2 linked regions of the Homo sapiens genome follow. The protein of the gene in region 1 interacts with the protein of each later gene in a pairwise test. Each region holds a gene or a part of one and is shown in the gene's direction. Other genes may lie near its edges.

The links. Proteins that work in one complex are often made in the same cells at the same time.
Region 2: the proteins of SRPK1 (region 1) and DGCR8 interact in binary tests that used the Homo sapiens proteins (3 or more experiments, as listed by UniProt).

Annotation. Positions count from the first base shown.
Region 1 is NC_000006.12:35,918,099-35,925,239, reverse strand, and holds the start of SRPK1 (SRSF protein kinase 1), read left to right. Parts: upstream 1-4,141; 5' UTR 4,142-4,183; coding exon 4,184-4,196; intron 4,197-4,711; coding exon 4,712-4,772; intron 4,773-7,141. UniProt on the Homo sapiens protein: Serine/arginine-rich protein-specific kinase which specifically phosphorylates its substrates at serine residues located in regions rich in arginine/serine dipeptides, known as RS domains and is involved in the phosphorylation of SR splicing factors and the regulation of splicing.
Region 2 is NC_000022.11:20,083,241-20,090,240, forward strand, and holds part of DGCR8 (microprocessor complex subunit DGCR8), read left to right. Parts: exon of another isoform or gene 1-2,032; intron 2,033-2,446; 5' UTR 2,447-2,723; coding exon 2,724-3,443; intron 3,444-3,921; coding exon 3,922-4,081; intron 4,082-6,428; coding exon 6,429-6,571; exon of another isoform or gene 6,572-6,603; intron 6,604-6,735; coding exon 6,736-7,000.

The DNA of each region.
Region 1 (7,141 bases):
CTCCTGACCTCAGGTGATCCACCCGTCTTGGCCTCCCAAAGTGCTGGGATTACAGGCGTGAGCCACCGCGTCCGGCCCCTGGCAAATTGTTAATAATAAACCTCTCCCTGGGTTCTGATAACACCTCCATCCTCTTCTCCCTTCAGGCCTAGAGATGGTAAAAACTCCAGCTGTTGCTAGTCCCTGGATGTCTAACTATCCCTTGTTTGTTTTCCTTAACACCTTTATTCCTTCATTAAATTCTCTTCAATTAGCCTTTAAATGTGCCATGTGTTTCCTGATACCCAGGCCTATAATATGTAGATTTTCCCAATATAATTCACAAAACCATGTATCCAAAAGGTAAGAGAAAGTTTTTTTGGGGTTTTCCAATTATGCAGACAGCTATTGGAAATCTTAACTCATTCAAAATAAATCATCTCATGTATTTTCACTTTCTCCTGTTGTCCATTTCATCTCGCAAGACGTAGGGGAGGCCATAAAGGGATGTGTTGCTTTGGATTTAAGTCAGATCAAAACTTTAGACAAAGCATAATAATTTGTGATAATCAAGGCAGACAATGTTGGGTATGAAGAAACGTGTGAACTCAACTTTAGACGTTCAGATTTCTAAAATGTCAAAGAAGTATTAGAGAAGATTCCAGGGAGTCTTAATAAGTAAGTTAGCTCAAAAGGGATAGGATCTTTTCAGAAATTAAATTCTGAGACTACCATGAGCAGCCAAAAATATGATGGGTTATGGTTTCCGAATACCTCTACTTTTAAAGGGACTTGCAGGAAAAAAATAGCTGATGGAGAAGGGGTATGCATGTAAGAATGAATAGCTACCACTTTTTTTGTGTCTTTCTTTTTTCCTTTTTGTGCAGAAAAGGGTCTTGCTGTATTGCCCAGGCAGGTCTCTAACTCTTAGGCTCAAGGTATCCTCCTGCCTCTGCCTCCCTAAGTGTTGGGATTACAGGCATGAGCCACTGTGCTTGGCCTACACTTTTTTTTTTTTTTTTTGCTAACACTTTTAAGAATAGTTTCTGGGGAGCCTAAGGGGGGCAGATTGTTTGAGCCCAGGAGTTCCAAACCAGCCTGGGCAATGTGGCAAAACCCCATCTCTATAAAAAACACAAAAATCAAGTGGATATGGTGGCATGTGCCTGTAGTAGTTCCAGCTACTGGGGAGGCTGAGGTGAAAAAATTGCTTGAGCCCGGGTTGCAGTGAGGAAAGATTTCGCCACTGCGCTCCTGCCTGGGTGACAGAGTGAGACCCTGTCAAAGAAAAAAAAAAATTCTGGAAAGTTAAAAGTCCAGAATAGGCCAAGCTCTGCAAACTTGGGAGAAGAAACTATTTTTAAAGTTACATTTCAAGCAAAATGCACAAAAAGGGGATGGTTGTAGAATAGGGGAAATGAACAAACGTGCTTACATGAACAGTTATAGAGGTCTTAGAAAAAGTGGAGAGCCAAAGCATGATGGAGGAATAGAGAAAAACAGATGGAAAAAAAAGAGAAATGGTCAATTCTGGGAACTCAGTCCAGTGAACTTCACATTGACTCTGGAAAAATTCTGAAAACGAGTTATTAAACAGATGGTTAGTAAGCTCTTAGAGAAGCAATAGCCTACTCAGAGTCAGGATAGGTACGACTGTATCATGCCAAGCTGAACATATTTCCTTTTTGATGGGTCTGCAATAACCAATTCAGATTTAATACAGCTCTAATATTGTCCCTCTCAGTGTTTTCTCTCTCTTTCATCCTGACATTTCTCATAAACTGCAGATCATTTATTCTTTTTTTTTTCTTTTGAGACGGAGTTTTGCTCTTGTTGCCCAGGCTGGAGTGCAGTGGTGCAATCTCGGCTCACTGCAACCTCCGCCTCCCGGGTTCAAGCGATTCTCCTGCCTCAGCCTCCCAAGTAGCTGGGATTACAGGCATGTGCCACCATGCCCGGCTACTTTTGTATTTTTAGTAGAGATGAGGTTTCACCATGTTGGCCAGGATGGTCTCGATCTCTTAACCTTGTGATCTGCCCGCCTCGGCCTCCCAAAGTGCTGGGATTACAGGCATAAGCCACTGTGCCTGGCCCATTTATTCTTTTATTAGACAAATATATGAGCACCTACTAAGTGCCTAACACTGTGTAGGCACTGAGTTTACATCAAGGAAAACCTAAGCAGGGTCTCTACACTCAAACAGTTTACTTTGGGGTGGGCAGTACTTTCCCAATTCTGGGATTTTTCCTAGCTATCAGCTCTCTCCCTGTCTTTTCTAAACCACACGCGGTTATCCTGAACTCACACAACCCTCAGAGTCTAGGGCTTCCCTGTCTGTCCTAACCTTCCTTTTGTTTTCAACTTTACAGCAGGGAATAGACTGGGCTGCATCCTTCCTTGGCCAACAGGTACTGTCTTCTTTTGCAATATACTCAGACATGCTATCATTCAGGTTCCATGCAACATATATCAATTATCTAAATTTCAAATTTGGCTAACCTGCCTTTCCAGCCTCACCTTCCATTTCATCCCTTCAGTTGTTACCAGCCCCAATCCTAGCCCCCACCTACAGGTGTCCACGTCTGTGCCTTTTTGCTCAATGTATTTTCTCATTCAGGAATGCCTGACATCTCCTTCTCCACCTATAGAAATCTTACATATTTCCTAATACCCAGCTCAAAAACTGCCTTCTCTGGATGGGCTTAATTACTTACTTTGCTCAATAAGTTCTGCCAAAGCCCCCATGCTTGACTTGTGCTGTACTATTGCCCTCTCATCTTCCCTTCTCAATTACTTGTTCAGAGCAAAGGTCTTCAGAGCTTCCACTCTGTCCAGCTGCGGTACTTTACAACATGGGTTGGTAAACTAAGATCTGAAATAAGAATAACCGTTGAAACGGTTGAAAAAAGATCAAAAGGGCCTGGCTCAGTGGCTCACACCTGTAATTCCAGCACCTTGGGAGGCTGAGGTGGGAGGATCACTTGAGCCCTGGATGTCCAGGCTGCAGTGAGCCGAGATCATGCCACTGTACTCCGGCCTAGGCAGCAGAGCAAGACTGCTCTCTCTGTCTTTCTTTAACCCTCACCTTCCCTTCAAAACCTAACAAAGACCATGTTTAAATCAATAGAAGAACATTTTATGACGTGAAAATTATATGAAATTCAAATTTCAGTGTCCATACATAAATCTTTATAGGAACACAGCCCATATTTTCTATGACTGCTTTTGAGCTCCAATGGCAGAGTTGAGTAGCTGAGAAAGAGATCTTATGGTCCACAAAGCCTAAATATTTACTGTACGGCCCAAAGAAAAACTTTGCTGAGCCTGCTATACAATAAGGGCTTCATGATTAAATAACTGGGTCGTACACCAAGATTCTGAACATATAGGCAGGCCCTCTTAAGTTTAGTGTCTTTGTGTAATGGAAGTAATAACTATTTTGCCTTTAAGTTGCCATAAACATCAAATGAGATAATGCACTTAGAAAATAAAAACAAAAAAAACTTATAAACAAGACAGCTTTATCATGTATTGAAGGTGGTAGAATAAGAAAACATTAAACGTTTTTATTCTCATTTCCCCTTCTTTCCTTTACAGCTTTCACTTAAACTTGAAATTTCAAGAGAAAATTCACTTTTGAAGTTTTTACTTTTCAAGTGATAATAGGGTCACAGGTTCTTTCCTTCCAGTCTTTTTGTGTTGCTCCCACTCCCTTTTCTTTCTCACATGTAATTTTTTTCCATTTTCTTTAAATAGTATCTCAACTGGGCTCACAATAGCTCAGGGAAGGAGAAACTGGGACATGCCTGATTAATCCATTTTACAGGCCAGGAAACTGAGGCAGATCCCAGTTGCCTCCGAAGCTCTGACTCAGCAGCATGCAGAGAGCCCTGCCGCTCTCTGCGCCTTTTCTAAACAAATAGAACAAAACTAACCTTGCCAGGTTTCCAAGCTTGGATCTCTAACACTCCTTCAACGTTCACCCCGGCGTTCCTCCCCGCTGCGCCCCCTCCCTCTCCTTGCCGCCCCCTCCTCGGGAGCAGGTGGTAGGCTCCGCGCCCAACGCGCAAGCGCGCGGCATCGTGGGGCGGGGGTGGGGCGGGACTGAGGGCGGAGTGTGAGCGGGCTCGGTTTTGGGCCGCGGCGGGAGCGGGAGTCGCCGCCACTCGAGTGCGCAGGCGCCTGGCGATTACCGGTCTCACCATGGAGCGGAAAGGTGAGCGGTGGAGCGGCCTCCGCCACGAGGGGCAATGGTCGCCGGGGCGAGGCCCGGGTCAGCGCCGGGAGCTTCGCTTAACTGCCGCGGTTCGGTTCCCGGACGTGCGGCGCCCCTCCACTGAGGTGGCGCCGCCCCACACCCCCTGCCTCTGGGCTGCGGGTCCGCGCCCCTCAGTCCGGGCGTCCTCTGGCGCCGGCCGTAGCCGCCCCTTGTTCCCCGCCAGGCCGGCTCGCGCCTTGGGGCCACTCCAGGGCCCGGCCCTTGGCGGGCGACGCAGACCCCCACCCGCCCGCCCCCTGACCCGGCCTGAGACCCCTCCGGCGCATCCCGCCCGGGCGCTGCTCTGCGCCCCGTGGGCCGCCAGCCCCACGGCCGGCCGCCTCGCCGGAGCCCGCAGCCGCCCCCGAGGCAGGCCCCGCAGCCGGGCCTGGCGCCCCTGCTGGGTCTCCACCCTCACCTTGGTCGCCTCCTTTCCTCCACATTCGCCCTTCATCCATCCCTCTCTCCTGCAGTGCTTGCGCTCCAGGCCCGAAAGAAAAGGACCAAGGCCAAGAAGGACAAAGCCCAAAGGAAGTGAGTCTTGTACCCCAACATCCCATTCTTTGGATTTTCCTCCGGCACCTTCTCTGCTCTGGTTTCACGTCTTGAACGTGCACCGGGTTTGGGCACCCTGTGGCTGCAGCCACATGGCCTCGGGGCAGCTCGGAGGGTCGCTCTCCAGCAACCATGTGGAAGAGAGCTGCTGTTGCTCAACGCCAGGCCTGGGTCTTAGCAGCCCCGGGCCTGCTGGAAAGGGCTGTCGGAGGAGGACCAGAGCCCGCCCGGTACCTTTCCTCCCCAACTCCACAGAGGAGGCACAAACTCCCCTAGCTTGGACCTCCCCACCGGAGCTGGTAGATCATTATCGGTCTGTTTCTGAACTCTGGTCTCTCTTACCTGCTCCCCAACGTCTTAACTTGCCTCCGACGTCTTCACGGTAGGCCTTAAGGAAATTCTTGAATGAATTTTTCCGTGTTTACTTTGGGTTCTACCAACCACACACTCCCTTTCATAGAGGAGGGCATGGGGCTTTTCCCTGGGTTAGTCAACTTCCTGAGCCTGTAAGGCGTATCGGCTTTTTTGCAGTGTGCCGGCAGACCGCTGTGTATACAGTCGGTGTCTGTTAACTGCTTCTCTTCTGTCTAAACCTCAACCAGATGCAGATAATCTTCCGGAGTGGACATCACAATAGTAACGGGAGAGTTCTTTAACAAACATTGATGATTCTGGTTTGGCGTATTAAGCGCCACATGTCCAGTTTTATCAGTAGGATGCATAACAGTAGTTTAGTGCTATCGTGGCAAGTTCAAAAGTTGGTCACAGCCTAGTAGAAACTCAGGTAGCAGGCTTAGCAGCAAGTGAGGCTAAGCCTTAAGAACTTTCATCATGTACTAACGTTTAATTGCAAAGGATCTTGGAAATCAGCTCTTACACACTTTGTATTCAGAGAGAGCTTGTATGCCTAGTTATTAATACATCTTAATTTTAGATGTATTATCTTTATAGTTTTACATTTATTTGATGTTTTGTGGCATCGTATGCGGTCTAATTCCCTCTGAGCTGATACAACACATTTCAAAGGCCTTCCTAGGTCACCCCACTGAATGACAATACCAGATTAGGGGGGTGTAGGGGTGTGTGTTGTTTTTGGAGGCTACCTACTGTTTGGGGAGAGCACATAATGACTTCTCTCTTTCAATAGAACTAAAGTGGTAGGTGACCTCACCTCTTGCTCCATTTTCTCTTCTGTCTTATGAAATGTATTTTGTAAGTGCTTGGTGACGAAGTCTTGTAAATGAGAGTTTGTGTGTGTCTGTTTACCTTTGGATTATCCATATATGGGATTATTCAAAACCAGTTTTTAATCCTAGATCGTTTAATAGAAACAGCAAGGTGCTAACTTGGTTCTAGTGTGCAGTAGGACTTGAAATGTTACTTTTCTGTGCCTAGTTTAGTTATTCTTTGTGGAATTGATGAGAATGTGTTAAAACGTTCTTTTCTATTGATACAAGGAAGTTGCAGTTTTTATTATATTACTCTGTATTTTTTAGAAATCCTGGTCTCTCAGACTATTTGTCCAGATCTCTCTTACCACTTAGAAATTAATTTGAGATTAGCCCAAATCAAGCTGTAATTTGAGGGGTAAATGTATATAGATGATATACTTTAAGCACCAGAAATCTGTTACTTTCGATTATCTATTTAGACCATATGCTTTATTTCTAAAGTCAGATGTGTATCTGTTACCCCATTCACTACTATGGATAACTTAGAGTTATTTGTGTTAATTGTTTGCAAGTATGGATTATAGATAATCTAGCAGTCATTTTACTGAATATTTCATCTTGAACAACTTTGAATCCTGAAAATATGCGTGAATGAACTGCCCCCATTTCCTTGTAACTTCAGAGGTGTTTTATTTTTGGATTTGTTTCCAATTAATAAGTTTTTTTTGTTTGTTTGTTTTTGAATTTACCTACCTTTTTTTTCTTTTTCTTTTTGAGGCAAAAAGAAAGCCTGTTGCCCAGGCTGCAGTGCAATGGTGCGATCTCGGCTCACTGCAACCTCCACCTACCAGATTCAAGCAATTCTCTTGCCTCAGCCCCCCAAGTAGCTGGGACTACAGGCGTGTGCCACTACGCCTGGTTAATTTTTGTATTTTTTGTAGAGAGAGAGTTTCGCCATGTTGCCCAGGCTGGTCTCGAACTCCTGAGCTCAGGTAATCCGCCTGCCTCAGCCTCCCAAAGTGCTGGGATTACAGGCATGAGCCACTGCACCTTGCTCTTTTTCTTTCTTCCTTTTTGTCTTTCTTTCTGTCTTTCTTTTCTTTTGTTTGTATCCCAGCCTCCTTTTAAGTAGCTGAAATGTCTAATTAAGTTGGTTAGAGTACTGTGTTAGAAGTT
Region 2 (7,000 bases), on another chromosome or scaffold:
TGAATACTTCTTGGCATGTGACAGGGTGCATGCTTTTCTTAGTTGTTAGCGGTCCATCTCCCCCACTAAAATGTGAGCTCTGTAGGGCAGGGTTTTGTCCACCTTGTGTCTGTAGCATCTAGGATGGTGTGTGTGTGTGTGATGAATGGAGAAAGCTTATAGAGGGGAGGAAGGAACTTGCCCAGGACTGCCCACCACTGAGGTCTGGGGCTGGGCAGGTTTCCTGCTTTCCTAAGGAGCTCACTCACTTGTAAGGCACCAGGCTTTCCTGCTGTGCATTTCTTCAGTGCCGCCGCTTGGCCCCATTAGCACCTTTGCTTGGAACGTCTACTCTAGCTGCTTCTTCGCCTTCTGTGGTAGCAGGCTTCCCCATTCCGTCCCACTGTTGGTCTCTAATCCCCTGCTCCTTGTGGCTTCTTCATGTAGCTTTTTGTGTCCCAGAATCATGGATTGACTCACCAGGGTCTCTATGGGACTGCCAGGTTCTGAGGTGTGTGGCCCTGGTCTTCCTTGTAATCTGTGGCACTGGGCGCATTGACCCCTCGGTCTGTTTTCTCTAATGGTCTTTCTTGGTTGCCAGGAGACTGACCTCACCCCACTTAGTGTTCCTCATGCCTGCCTGGTTGCTGCCCACAGCCTCTTGAGCGTCTTCAGCACTTTATAGTCAGTTGTTAGCTCTGTGCTGTGTTTCCTGGATCCTCAGCACCTTTGATGGACACATCTTTGGGAACATACGGTGTGAAATTCCCATTAGATTCAGAAATGTTAGGACATCTTAGAATCCAGGAAATGGGGTGACAGTGCAGTGGTCATTGACCTGCCAGTGTGTCCAGGCCCTGTGACCTTGTCTCTTGTCCATATAGTGCGTTCCTCGGAGTAGATGGCCAGTGGATAGTTGTTAAATGTATTGATTAAACCTAAACTAGTCTCTGGTTTTCATGTTGTGTCCCCTTCGAAGTACATCCACCATGCCTTGTCCCTTGTTAAATGTGTGATGTCTGCATCTCCTGTTCTTTCCGGGAATCTTGGGAGGATGTTAGGTCATGCAGTGCGGTTTGCATGTGTGCATCTTTACTGGTATGCACGCATGTGCATGCATGCGTGTTCCTGTGCACGTTGTGGGAGTGTGCATGTGCGTGTGTCTGCATGTGTTCCTTCTGCTCTGATGCAGGGTTTTCTGGCTGCCCCCTCAGACCCATCTTCCCTGCTTCATGTTGTCCCTTTCTTCATGCTTCCTCTGTAGTAAGGCTTCCTAGAGTTGCATCCTTAACCCTCATCTCTGGGTGGCCTTCCTCCTGTGGGTTTGGCGACTACCTCCTCAGTGCGTCCTGGCCTTCCGTATCTGGACCAGTCATGGCTCCAGAGTTGTGGCCTCGGCACCTTCAGAGCCTGCCTGGAGGTCCCCTCTGTTCTCCTCGCCAGGCTCCTGCCTGCATGCTGGAATTTGGGTGTCCTTCCTTGTCTTTAGTTCCCTCTTTTCTCTGCTATCCACCTCCGTTGGGTCAACAAGTGCGGTCAGTTCTGTGACACTGTTCTTGGCCCATTGCCAGGGCCTCTTTCACACCTTTGTCCTCTGGCCTGGAGGACTGTCCCCGTGCCTTGGATGCAGTTGCTTCTGCCTGGCACAGCTGTGGGTCTCCCCTCTCAAGTAGGAACCTACTTGTGGCATGAGAGTCGCTTCACCTTCAGTGGCTCCTTATTGTCCCCAGGGCGGAACGGGCTGCAGGTGGCACCCAGGCCTCTCTGTGCCTCGGCTCCAGCTGTCTCTTGTGGCTCCCCACCCCAAATCCTGGCAGGTCCCTTCCCCACAGCCACCCACCCCTCTCCTCCATCGGGAACAGAACTATGCTGCCACCTCTGGTGACCTCAGCACGCTGCATCACTGTCCCCGTCCACGTGCTACCCTGTGGGCCCAGGAGAGCCCTGGGGTCCCTGGGTAGCAGAGCGCCTGGCCATGCCTCTGAGGCCCCTAGTGCCGCAGAGTTGAGCTGAGGGTCTCGCGCTCGCCCTCTGACTGACCCAGCCCTTGCAGGTGAGTGGATTGCTGTGCTCTGGTGGCCTGAGGGAGGCCACGCGCCTTCTGTGTGTTCCAGAAAGGGTGCCTCCCACTGCATGCTTGCTTATCTGAGTTAGAAGAATGCTGTGGTGGAGTTTAGTGTAAATTTTTAAAATATTTTTTGAGCCTTATGATTATATAGTTTTTGTGTTTCTGAAGTAGGAATTAAAGTGGGCATTAACAAAATATTTAACTTTGGACTTAAGTTATAATTCAGGTTCTGAAGAATAAAAGTAAGGTTAGTTTGTTTTGATGCCTAAAAAGTCCTCTTAGGGAATATTATTTTGAAGCCCTTTACTATGCTGTTAATAGTGCTTGGCTTTTAACTTGGTACCAGGGAATTGGAAGGTTTCTGTCATTTTGTGACGATATTTTTAAATTTCTTTGCAGGTAGAAGAAGAAAGGTGCCACTCCGGCATGAAGACAGACTCGCTTAGTCGCCAGTCACTTAAGCTGAGTGCATTGTGATTTCCAATAATTGAGGCAGTGGTTCTAAAAGCTGTCTACATTAATGAAAAGAGCAATGTGGCCAGCTTGACTAAGCCGCCAGCGCACAGCGCGGCAGGACGCGCCCGGGTCTCAGCGGACTTGTGCATGTTAGCTGTGTAGATTTATGTGAGGGCTTGTAAAACTCTGGTCTTGTAAACTAGTCTTAAGCGCTTTTAATATGGAGACAGATGAGAGCCCCTCTCCGCTCCCGTGTGGGCCCGCAGGAGAAGCGGTGATGGAGAGCCGAGCTCGCCCCTTCCAAGCGCTGCCCCGTGAGCAGTCTCCACCACCTCCCCTGCAAACGTCCAGTGGTGCAGAGGTAATGGACGTTGGCTCTGGTGGTGATGGACAGTCCGAACTCCCTGCTGAGGACCCCTTCAACTTCTACGGAGCTTCTCTTCTCTCCAAAGGATCCTTCTCTAAGGGCCGCCTCCTCATAGACCCGAACTGTAGTGGCCACAGCCCGCGCACCGCCCGGCACGCACCTGCGGTCCGGAAGTTCTCCCCTGACCTTAAGTTGCTTAAGGATGTAAAGATTAGCGTGAGCTTTACCGAGAGCTGCAGGAGTAAGGACAGGAAGGTGCTGTACACAGGAGCAGAGCGCGACGTGCGGGCGGAGTGCGGTCTGCTCCTTAGCCCTGTCAGTGGGGACGTGCATGCTTGTCCCTTTGGCGGGAGTGTTGGTGACGGGGTAGGCATAGGGGGTGAGAGTGCTGATAAGAAGGATGAGGAGAATGAGCTGGATCAGGAAAAGAGAGTGGAGTATGCAGTGCTCGATGAGTTAGAAGATTTTACTGACAATTTGGAGCTAGATGAAGAAGGAGCAGGCGGGTTCACGGCTAAAGCAATCGTTCAGAGAGACAGAGTGGATGAAGAGGCCTTGAATTTCCCCTACGAGGTATGTTGGCAGCCCCTCCTCTAGAGGGCTCTTAGCAAAACCCAAAGAGAGATTTGGGAATTGCAGCATCTTTTGAAAGCAGGGAAATTAAAAAAAAAAAAAACAAAAACCAAAATCCCCTCTGAGGTGGAATAATGTTAATGTGGAGAAGAGAAAGATGTAAGGAGTCCAGATTTTTAAAGTTTCCTAATGAAAAGTTTGGCCCATGGGTAGGCCCTGCATCCCTGATCTAGCGCGTGGGGCAGCAGGTGCTGCTGAGTTACGCTCCTTGGCAGTGTGTGCCCCTGGACCAGGTGTGTTGGTGTCAGCTGGTAGCTTCATCCTGTTTGTTTTTCAGATGATCATGCACCCTAAGGGCACATCTAGGCCCCCTGAGAGCACCTCCTTTCTGTGTCTGTTCTCAGGAATGCTGTTGAGCTCTCCTGTTGCAGGAGCATGAGCGCCAGGGGCTCTGGTGTCTGAACAGCGTGTTTTGCAGGATGACTTTGACAACGATGTGGATGCTCTGCTGGAAGAAGGCCTTTGTGCCCCCAAAAAGAGGCGAACAGAGGAAAAATATGGCGGAGACAGCGACCATCCGTCCGATGGAGAGACAAGTGTGCAGCCGATGATGACCAAGATTAAAACAGTGCTCAAAAGTACGTGTGTGGGTCAGAAGCAGTGGGTGTTCCAGGGCAGTGGAGGGGTGGTTGCTTCCTTAGCAGAAATGCTTTGAGAGAGCTCTGGTGCCAGGTAGTGGGCTGGGTGGAGGCATGTTTGAGGACAGGACAGAAATATCTGAGGAGGGAAACACAGGATGGGAGGACGTCCTGATGCATGACCCAGATGCGGATCCTGGTGTGTGCTATGGAAACCACAGAGCAGCAGGCACTGTGCAGAGGAATGGGAGGGGACTTCTGAGGGGGTCAGGAGGGGATGTTGGTATATGCCAGGAGCCAGCATGACCATCAGCTGGAGGGTGTGGAGACCAAGGGCAAGGTGGGTACACAGTGAGATGGCAGGTGATAGTTGTGATCCAGGTTCTAGTCCTGGACCAAGTGTCACAGGAAGCCACCAGAAGCAAGTGGTGTTACCTGATTTTTGTTTAACAACATGGCTTCTGGGCCACAGCATGGTGTGTGCACTTCAGCTGGGCAGGGTGGAAGTGCCCTGGTCGACGTGGCACTTCCTCAACTTTGAGTTGAGGGTAGTGGGGAGAGCACTTGAGAGGCGCCCAGAGTTGCACTGTGAGGCTCTGTCATCGATGTGGTGCAGGTGTTGGGGGAGTCGGAGTTGGTGGCTTGGAGGCACCTATGAGGGTCCTGGTGGAGATGTGGGGCTCGGTAGAGGGACTGAAGAGATGCACGGGGACTCAGGCTCACAGGTGAGACCCCAGGCTGAGGGCTGGGGTGCACAAGGTGGCAGGGTGCGACTGGGAGCAAAGCAAGGGGCGGGTGGCACATGGCCATCCTCCTTGGGCCATTGAGGGGACAAGTTAGCTATGCCAGGTGCCACATGTTGCTGCCTATGTCGTGTTGGTAGCAGTTAAGCAGGAGGGCTTTTGGTCTAGACGGTTGCAGGCAGGGTAAACCTGGGGCTTCAGCTTCTGGGGCTGGGGGCAGGAGTCTTGACCTCGGGGCCTCTAGGAGGCTGGTTTGGTGCTGCATTTTCAACAGGCTCATTCAGAAGGTAAACCCACATTCGTCCTGCACAGCTCACTGGTCAGCAGCCATTCTGGCCTGGATGCCTGGATGTTCACAGACGGACAGCTGCATGTGACCCCCACCTCAGGTGGCTGGGCCAACTTTGTGACCACTCACTGTCACAGAGGAGCAGCCCCAGCGGACCCGTGGCCCGTCTCTTGCTTGGCTCCGTATTCCCTTTGCTTCTTTTCCTGACTTAACCTAAAGCTGGCAGGAGGCAGCTCCATCTTGGCCTGACTCTGTGGGGAGAGAGCCCACGCAGTGTGCATGCACCCCTGACCTTTAACACTCCCTCCCTGAATCATCACCTGATGGTGGCCTGGGTACAGGTGTCAGGTCCAGGGTCAGGGCCACTTGGTGGGTACCTAGCCCTGAGAGTCACTGGCCCTTTTTCCCCTTATGTATATTTTTTAAGGTTTCATTTGCTTTCTTCTGTTTTTTAATTTTTTTTTTGAGGCGGGGTCTTGCTGTTACCCAGGTTGGAGTAGCTCACTACAGCCTCAGCCTCCCAGGCTCAAGTGATCCTCCCACCTCAGCTTCCCAAGTAGCCAGGACTATAGGTGTATGCCACCATGCCTGGATAATTTTAAAAAGTTTTTTGTAGAGTCAGGGTCTTGCTGTGTTGCCTAGGCTGGTCTTTCTAAGTTTTTAACTTGTTCCCAATACCTGTGAGAAAATTAAGTTTTAGTTACATCTTTGCCTTACGCTCTTCCCAGCAGTCAGGCCTGGTGGCAGGTGTCAAGTTGATAAGTCGTAAACCTCTTCCTCACAACTGCCTATAAAGCAAAGAAGGGGTTGGGAGTAGTGTATTAAACCAACTTAGAAACGGAATCATTTGAAGCAGTGTTTTGTATGCTGCTGAGAGTGCAGCTCAGTTACAATAAAGACTTGTCACCTGGTCACTGGGAGCAGTGGCTGACAGCCATGCAGTTTATTAGCAAAGCTCATCCAGCCCCAAGGCGCCTCTGGCCACAACCAGACAGGCAGCAAAGGAGTCCAGTGTCCACAGTGCTTACCAGATGTGGAGGCAGGAGCTGAGGCTGGGACTTATATCTTGCACAGACCTGTTCTGTGCTCCTTCATGTGCTGGTTTGACACGTGTAAATTCCCACCTCAGGCCACATGCTATCTGTCCTAGGCCTGGAGGCATAGCAGTGAGCAAGGCAGAGAGGAATTTCGATTATCTGTGAAGACCCAGTTAAACACATGCTAGTACCCAACAATTTCTTGTGCAGGAGGTGCTGTGGCAACAATTCCAAGTGTTTTTACAGTGATTATAGGATGTTCTTGTCTTCCTGTGCAGGTCGTGGCCGCCCACCTACAGAGCCGCTGCCCGACGGGTGGATCATGACATTCCATAACTCTGGAGTCCCGGTGTACCTACACAGAGAGTCTCGGGTGGTCACCTGGTCCAGGCCATACTTCTTGGGAACGGGAAGCATACGGGTAGGGGAGGCATCAGTCGTGACTTTAGGCTTGTAAGTTCTCAGACCAAAACGTGCACATCCACACACATGGCACCGCAGCCAAGCAGAGGCCGGTGAAAGGCATCAGAGTTTCAGACTCTCGGGTTGTCCTTGTAATCCATATTGCAATTTCACTATCCACAGAAACACGACCCTCCTCTGAGTAGCATCCCTTGTCTGCATTATAAGAAAATGAAGGACAACGAGGAACGGGAGCAAAGCAGTGACCTCACCCCTAGTGGGGATGTGTCCCCCGTCAAGCCCCTGAGCCGATCTGCAGAGCTGGAGTTTCCCCTGGATGAGCCTGACTCTATGGGTGCTGACCCGGGGCCCCCGGACGAGAAAGACCCACTAGGGGCTGAGGCAGCCCCTGGGGCCCTGGGGCAGGTGAAGGCCAAAGTCGAGGTGT